2 separate regions of the Homo sapiens genome follow, and region 1 is linked to region 2. The links come from fine-mapping of genetic effects on gene expression. A gene starts in region 2. The other region holds a variant in brackets. All regions are shown on one strand. Distances are from middle to middle. Region 1 overlaps DNAH5 (dynein axonemal heavy chain 5). Region 2 holds the start of DNAH5-AS1 (DNAH5 antisense RNA 1).

The links. PIP is the estimated chance that this variant, and not a neighbour inherited with it, causes the effect.
Region 1: its variant is the best candidate, but not a certain one, in a credible set for the expression of DNAH5-AS1 in cerebral cortex (GTEx, PIP 0.53).

The regions. Positions count from the first base shown.
Region 1 is chr5:13,896,918-13,900,917 of GRCh38, forward strand. It overlaps DNAH5 (dynein axonemal heavy chain 5), which reads right to left. Exons shown (of 79, transcript NM_001369.3): 15 at 3,289-3,495. DNAH5-AS1 (DNAH5 antisense RNA 1) reads left to right here. Exons shown (of 3, transcript NR_199035.1): 3 at 618-4,000. Among named protein-coding and RNA genes, the nearest start is that of DNAH5-AS1, 38 kb to the left of the region's middle. The variant A/G (reference allele first, on the strand shown) is at 2,332.
Region 2 is chr5:13,858,437-13,862,436 of GRCh38, forward strand. It overlaps DNAH5-AS1 (DNAH5 antisense RNA 1), which reads left to right and starts at 2,003. Exons shown (of 3, transcript NR_199035.1): 1 at 2,003-2,119. DNAH5 (dynein axonemal heavy chain 5) reads right to left here. Exons shown (of 79, transcript NM_001369.3): 30 at 1,016-1,169. RefSeq lists an enhancer at 431-1,630.

The sequences.
Region 1 (4,000 bases), 38 kb after region 2:
TGATAATAGATGAATGTTTTCCAAACTGTTTTGCCTAGAGTACTAGGTCCAAAGAGATTCTATAAGAAAAAATGTCCCTTTGATAGATAAATTTTGAAAATGCTGCATACAATATCTCCCCTCTTGGGTGGTCACAGCTAATATTAATGATTCTTAGAAACCTGCTTAAGGAAGTAAGAAGCCTTGCAAGGCTTTGAAAATTTTGTTAAACACAGTATTTCCCAGATGGACCTCATAATCCTTTCCTCATATAATGTTTTTCCACAATTTCTATAAGATTCTTTCAATGTCCATAAAAGCCACTTTAGAAAAGTCTAAATTTTCTGGTTCTATTCGCAGCTACTTACATATTTCCTGAAACTTGTATCCACTGCTTGTTTTTTTTCAATGTCCACCAGTTATTCTATCTGGAAGCAGTTCTTAGAATCTGCTTCTAGCAGGCATTCTACTTCCCACCTTTAATCCCAGAAGGGATTACTCAACTGCTTTGACAAAAGAGAAACCCAGGCTTAGAAGGTGAAGTCATTTACCCAAAGATAATGATTTGAATCCAGATTAAATTGGCTTCAGAACCTATATTTGTAACTATTAGCCTGTACTTGGTCTTCTCTTTCTAGTTAAACTGTCTTCCAAGGAAGAGATGAAGAAACAAATTCTCAGCTACTTTGGCATATCTGCAAAAGCCTGAAAGCTCTGTCAAATATTCAGCACAATAATTCTGCAACACTTCAGATGGTCACCTAAACCTGCCAATAGATCTGCTTTGACCAGCTACTCAGGTTGAGCAGAAACTTTTAACTCTCAACCTCCAAGATAATAAATGTTAATGAGATGATAATTTACTCCCTTGAATTGTCATTTAAAACATTCTTTGATCCTCTTCCCTTCATGGGGGAGGGGGGAACCACATCCCCTTTTTTTGAATCTGGGTAGGTTTACAGTCCAACAGAGTACAACAGAGATGATGCTGTGAGACATCTGAGGCTATTATAAAGACCATGTGACTTCTTTATTGTTCACTGTAGCGCTTGTTCTTGAAACCCTGAGCTGCCATATAAGAAATTCTACTAGCCAGAGGCCTCCATACTGGAAGGCCATGTATAGATGTGCCTGTTCACAGTCCCACTGGAGTGTACCTTCCAGCTTTCCTCAGGAAAGAAACAGAAACTAGAAGAACCCTTCTTGGACCTTACAGATTGAACATCTGCCAGTTGAATACCAATAAACAACCTTTGTCAACAATACATGGAACAGAAGAATCACCTATGCAAGCCCCACTCAAGTTCTTTACCCATAAAGTCATGATATAATGATACGGTTATTGTAAACCCTACAACGTGCTTACAAGTGTTTGTTGCCTGAAACAGACAAGTGAAACAACAACTCTGCAAATACAATTAAATTATCAGTAATTCCATAATCTTATAATTATAGTTTCTTAGTAAAAATATTATTTTCTTTATGAATATGTAAATTGACTAAGTGAGTTTCCTAATGTGAAAGAGTCTAAAAGGGAATCTCAACATGCTGACTGGTATTTTATGAGTCTACATTTGAGGAATGTCTGTCCATTGCCAATACAACTTTTTAATATGACATGAAGTGGTGGGAAGACGATGGACTACAAGTCTGGGTTCTGGTCTTACTTCTGCCACTTTGTAGCTATGAGACCTTTGCTAAATCTTTTAACTTCTCTAAGCCACAGTTTTGTCATCTACGAAATAAAATAATAGTATTCTGTCCTACTTACCTAACGTAGTGGTAGAAAAGATCAGATGAAATAATGAGCATGAAAATGGCTTTAAATGTAAAGTACAGTGCAAGTGCATGGACTTAGTATTGTCACGTGATGTTAACCACTATGAAATTTTAACAATGGTTTCCATGTTGTCAGATTCCATGGCCGCATCTCTGATCTCACCTTCTTCATCCCCTGGGTAGCAGCATTTGCCACTGGTGACCAGTCCCTCTCTCAGTAGCCTTTTCATACCCTTGGCTTCCTTTTTTTGTTGTTTTTTGTTTGTTTGTTTTTTGAGACGGATCTCGCTCTGTCACCCAGGCTGGAGTGCAGTGGTGCAATCTCAGCTCACTGCAACCTCCATCTCTAGGTTCAAGAGATTCTCCTGCCTCGGCCTCCCAAGTAGCTGAGATTACAGGCACATGCCAACATGTTCAGCTAATTTTTGTATTTTTAATAGAGACGGGGTTTCACCACGTTGGCCAGGCTGGTCTCGAACTCCTGACCTCAGGTGATCTGCCAGTCTCAGCCTCCCAAAGTGCTGGGATTACAGGCATGAGCCACCGTGCCCGGCCATCCTTGGTCTCCTTGAC[A/G]CTTGGTTTCTTCCCAGCTCAGAGGTCAGTCCTCTGTTTTATTTGCACACCTGTCTTCTTCTTTCAGATCTGTTAATACTGGAACAACCCAATGCTTGGCCCAGTGGCCCTCCATTCTTCTCTGTCTGTATTCTCTCCCCTAAGAGATCTCATCCAGGACAATGACATTAAATAACAATGATATTCTGATAACTCTCAGAAGCATGCCTCCCACTTTGGCTTCTCCACTGAACTCCAGACTTAAGTATCCAACTGCATGGACAACACTGCCACTTGGCTGTCTAAAAACTATCTTGTACTTAAATGGGAACTACTGATTCCCTCCTGCTGCTCCAAATACACTAGTTTCGGTTTTCGCCATCTCCATAACTTGAACTTACAGTCAGGGCCCCTGCATGGTATTGTGCAAGTTATGAAGAATGCAACCTACACAGCATTCTACGGCACCCCTGCTTTAATTCATGGAACTGCTCACACCAAAACCACAGGTATTATTCCTGAGTTCTCTTATAACCTGACTGTTGACATAACTCTAAATTCTCCAAACAACTCTGCTGCCATCCCAGTTCAAGCTCTCATCTTCATCCTGGGCCAGTGCAACACTTCACAAACAGGCTTCCCGCTGATACCCCTCGTCCCTCTTAACATCCATTTTCCACCCAGCAGTAAGAATAACTTTTATTATAAAAAGAGATCGTGCCTTTTTCAGTGGCTCGAAATCCTCCAATGGTTTCCTGGTACACTCAAAATAAAACCCAAGCTTCTCATCTTGGCCTGCAAGACCTGTAACGGCCTGGCCCCAGCCAACTCTGCAGCTGCACCCCATGGCACTGTCCCCTCAGTCACTCCATTCATCCTGGCCACTTTCTGCTCCTTGAATATGACACATCACCATATTTTTTTATAATACATTCCAGAGCTAGCCAAGAATGGGGGGAAAAAATAAAAGTAGTATACCTTCATGTTACTGAAGTTCCTTTTGTATCTATCTCGTTTCTGGAAGAGGGAAGTTGCCAGTGGAGAGACTTCCAGACCCATCTGGGCCATGCACTCTGTTTCTCTAAATAAGATTAATATCTGAGGGTCAAAGTTTACAAACAATTCCCCTGTGCCTGGAGCCTTCACCAATAATGAAGCCTCAAGACCTACATGAATTTCTTCAATCTGTGGGAAGAAACCAACATCATTACTATCAGAAAGTTCAATTCATGCAGAGTATCTAGCTCAGCTATCTCTAGGAATAAGGATCATTAAATGTTCTTCCATGGATTTGAGCTTCCTAAATTAAGGGCAATAAGATCACTCACTCTTCTCCTAAATCCAGTCTCATACAATAGCCTTCAAGTTCTTGGTGTTGATGTTGGGCAGTCAATTCAATAAAACCTTTCAATGACTCTAACACTGATAAATAAGTGGACACTGCAACAGTGGTGGCGTCTCAAAAGCCATTTAGCTACCTGATACCTTCATGCCTACTCTATTATTCTTCCTAATAAAAGTTTCGTAAGACCTCCTAAACTCAGTTTTTACTTATCTAGAAAAACAATGAACACAGCTATGGAGACATCGCATCCTGACAGCCTACAAAGAAATACATGTATTGGTAGGATATGCTATGATTAACCAGTTGTACAACAAAAGAAAATTTGAAACTTTGTTTAACAGATGT
Region 2 (4,000 bases):
AGGGATAGCATTAGGAGAAATACCTAATGTAGATGACAGGTTGCTGGGTCCAGCAAACCACCATGGCACCTGTATTCCTATGTAACAAACCTGCACATTCTGCACATGTATCCCAGAACTTAAATATAATTTAAAAAAAAAATCCAAACCTCCTACTTAAAACCTTTAAGAAAAGAAGATGAAAAACATGCACAAATACAAATCAAAAATAAAGTAAAATTTTAGTGAGTGAATACATTTCACTATTGCCTCCAAAATAAATGGTCTGCAGTCTGATTTTATCTGTCATCTGTAATTAAACTGAAAACTAACCAAAAAAGAAGTTCAGAAACCTATGTGATGAAAACATTTAAAATAATCATGCTTCTAAAACTGAAATATATTGTTAAAATGTTATAATCTTGCATACGACTTAAGGTAATTGAATAAGAATCCTTGAGAATTGGTTAAAATGTTCATTTAAAAATCTCAAAATATACTCCATATATACCCAGTAAGATGATTACGATTTGATGATAAATATATACTTGACATCTTGAAAAGAAGGTCTTTTTGTTTTGGAGATTTTTTCTGCACATTTCCACCCCTCAATTTTACTGTACAGATATAATTGGGTACATTGTATAGTATGCATTACTTTAAAATGTCTGTAGTAGAAAAACTTAGCCTACCATTGTCAAGATAACTGCACCATAATTCTACACTGTTCCAAATTCTACCTTGAAATTATCTAAAGAAGCATATCAATTATGCGACCACTTATTTTTTGTTTTTTTAACCCTCTATCTCCTATCAAACCTCCACAGTTTTACAGCATTCTTACTCTGATTGTCACCCCTTTCCTTTCCACAATTCCTCACTCCCTTTGAAGAATAACAGCATTAACAGTGACAACAAAAAGATTGAAGGAAGGGGGTTCAATAGAAGTGGAATATTATTGCATTATTTAAGGGGGTAATCGCTCTGAGAGCTTTCTCTGAAAAATCTGATGAAATCATAAAGAAGATTACAAAACCTTGGGCAGCTGCTTGGCAATGTCTCCTCCCACAAAGACAGCTTCTAAATAAATCCACAGGTTTTGCACCGTCATCCAGCTCTCGATGATGTCTGTTGAGTTGGAAAGGTACTGCACCCATTTTTGAATCTGGGCTTTGAATGGCATATTGTACCTAAAATAAGAAATAGGTTTAGGGTTTGGTTTTGTTTTTGTTGTGCTGTTGTTTCAAATTAAAAAGGTTTTTAAAAATCTTAATTTTTAACCGCTTTCTTTACAACCTTAATTATGTTGCTGGCTTTTAAAGTGATGCAACCAAGTGATTAATTCATCCCCACTTACTGTTCATTGTTAGTCTAGCTTTTTCCCTTTTGATCCAGAGCATAGAGAAGGGTGGGAGATTTATAATCTAAGGAGTAGATCAGGCATTAGACTTGATTCCACCAAGCTTCCAGGGTAATATAATTACCCTCAGTGCTGCTATGGCTACGAGAATAATATTTGCCCTACTGAGCTTCTGTGCCTATTTCATGGAGTCTCTGGTTTTTCATATAATATGGAGCTTTTATAGAACCATCAGTGGGGACCAGACAACTAATTCAATCTTCAAATATGATAACACCTGGACTCTCTCCTTAGCCTCCCCTTTTCTGAGTCTCTTTCTAACTTCCCACGCACCTGTGTCCAACCCACTCATGTTTGATGTACATGTGTGCAAGATTACTGCCTCTTCCATAGTTAATCTGTCTTCCCCTTTTCCTCTTTGAGACAGACTGCCTGTGGGTGGCCTCCCAATGTCCTTTTTTCCTTCTGCTTTTCCATGTGGGCTCATAATTACCCAGCTAAATTACTGAATTTCCCAGCTTCCCTTTGCAGTAATGTGCAGTCAGAAGACTAAGTTCCACATCAACAGTGCTTAATTTAGCGGAACACTGGAATGATCTCATAGCTGAACACTGGAATCATCTCGCCAGCATTAAAAATTACTGATGCCTGCCTGGGTCCTACGTACAGAGACTCTGATTCAATGGGTCTGGGAAGTGGCCCTGGCATTGGGATTTTTTTAAGTTCCTTCAGTGTATCTGGTACGTTGCAAAGATTGAGAACAACTCTTCTACATGAAATGTGAGTAGTGGCATTGGATGTAATGGGTAGTATGGGGAATAAGGTCACACCTGGGAAAGACAGATGAGTGAGCCAGACCAAGCTTGGGTCCCTGATGATGTGGTAAAGCCCCCATTCCAACCTGAACCACCTACATTAGGAATTCTTTTATGCGTGAGCAATATAAACATCAGTGTTATATTAGCCATTTTGTATGTGGTGTTTCTGTTATTTACAGACAAACTTAATCCTAAATGATTATACAGCCTACCTTTGTGTCTCTTCTTCTCTTTCTTATCCCTTCATGGTTCTCTCTAGCCCTACATAATATGGACTTGAAGTCGTATTATTGCATAAAAGTTTAATTTCCATATTCTTAATTGTTAACCAAATTGTTTTAATATTCCATGCATCTTTCTGAATATTTGTATGCTCTTCACTAGAAATATAGGTCCATAGAAACAGAGATCTTTCCCTTATTTGTTGTTCTACCCACAGCGCCTAGAAGAGTACATCACACACATAGTAAAGGTTCAATAAATATATATTGAAAAAATACTCCTCCCAATAACTCTATCTGTAGATTAGATGCCATTGAAAAGAAAAGTTTCCCCACCCCAACCAGATAATTTTTACTTAATTTACATGAGTGTCTTTTCTATCTCCCTAGGGTATATTATTGCCTGTCTATCCTTTATTCTGGTTTGGTATGAATAGTAACCAAGTTCATTAAAACTCACTAAATCCTGAGAAGTCCAAACTCAAGATTACTAATGGTCTAACTTTATATCCCAATATTACTTTAGTGTAACAAGTAAACTGAAATAAGAGAAATTTTTTTGAAATAGTATGAAGTACACAGTATTTCCAACATTAAAAGTATTGATACACATATATATGGAGAATTGGGTGATATTTTAAAGCTAGAATAGAACAACAAATTCATATCTCAATGGTATCCACTTTCTGCACAATTACCATATATTTGAGAAGATTCTGGGGAACAAAAACATTATTTCAGAAAGAGCAAATGGAAGCAATGAAACAAGGAAATGTAAATTCATGACTGTGTGGTTTGTATGTCCAAAATGTGAGGGGTGGCCACTATGCATTATATACATGTAATGAAAGTTCACATGTGGACAGGCACAGTGGCTCATGCCTGTAATGCCAGCATTTTGGGAGGCCAAGGCGGGCAGATCACCTGAGACCAGGAGTTTGAGACCAGCCTGGCCAACATGGTGAAACCCTGTCTCTACTAAAAATACAAAAATTAGCCAGGCGTGGTGGCTGTTGCCTGTAATCCCAGTACTCAGGAAGCTGCGGCAGAATCACTTGAGCCAGGGAGGCTGAGGTTTCAGTGAGCTGAGATCACGCCATTGCACTCCAGCCTGGGTGACAAAGCAAGATTCCATCTCAAAAAAAAAAAAAAAAAAAAAAAACAAGTTCAAATGTACCCCATAAATTTGTACAAATATAAAAAATAGAGTATGTAAACAACTAAGAGTTTCTAGTCCACAGATATTGGTAAAAAAGGTTTTTCGAGTAAAATGATTATTCTGAAATTCAAAATAATGTTCCTCCTGGATTCTACAGCCTGTAGAGCTATGAGCTGTGCAGTCAGGCTTGTCAGCAGCAAGCTGAAATGTTCCCAAGAGCCGAGTGGCTAATTATACGTTGCATTATTTTGTCCAGTGGATGGTCTCAGACATACCCCACAAATAGAGGATAATGAAATAAAACCAGAGTTACACATGCTCTAACATGTGCCTGAGGCCAAAATGAAAACAAGAATAATTGAAATATAATCTCTTGATGATGTATATATAAGTGGGTACCTGAGTAAAAATATGTTTTGGATATAAAAATTAATTAATCAATGTAATTAAAACAAGTATTTTC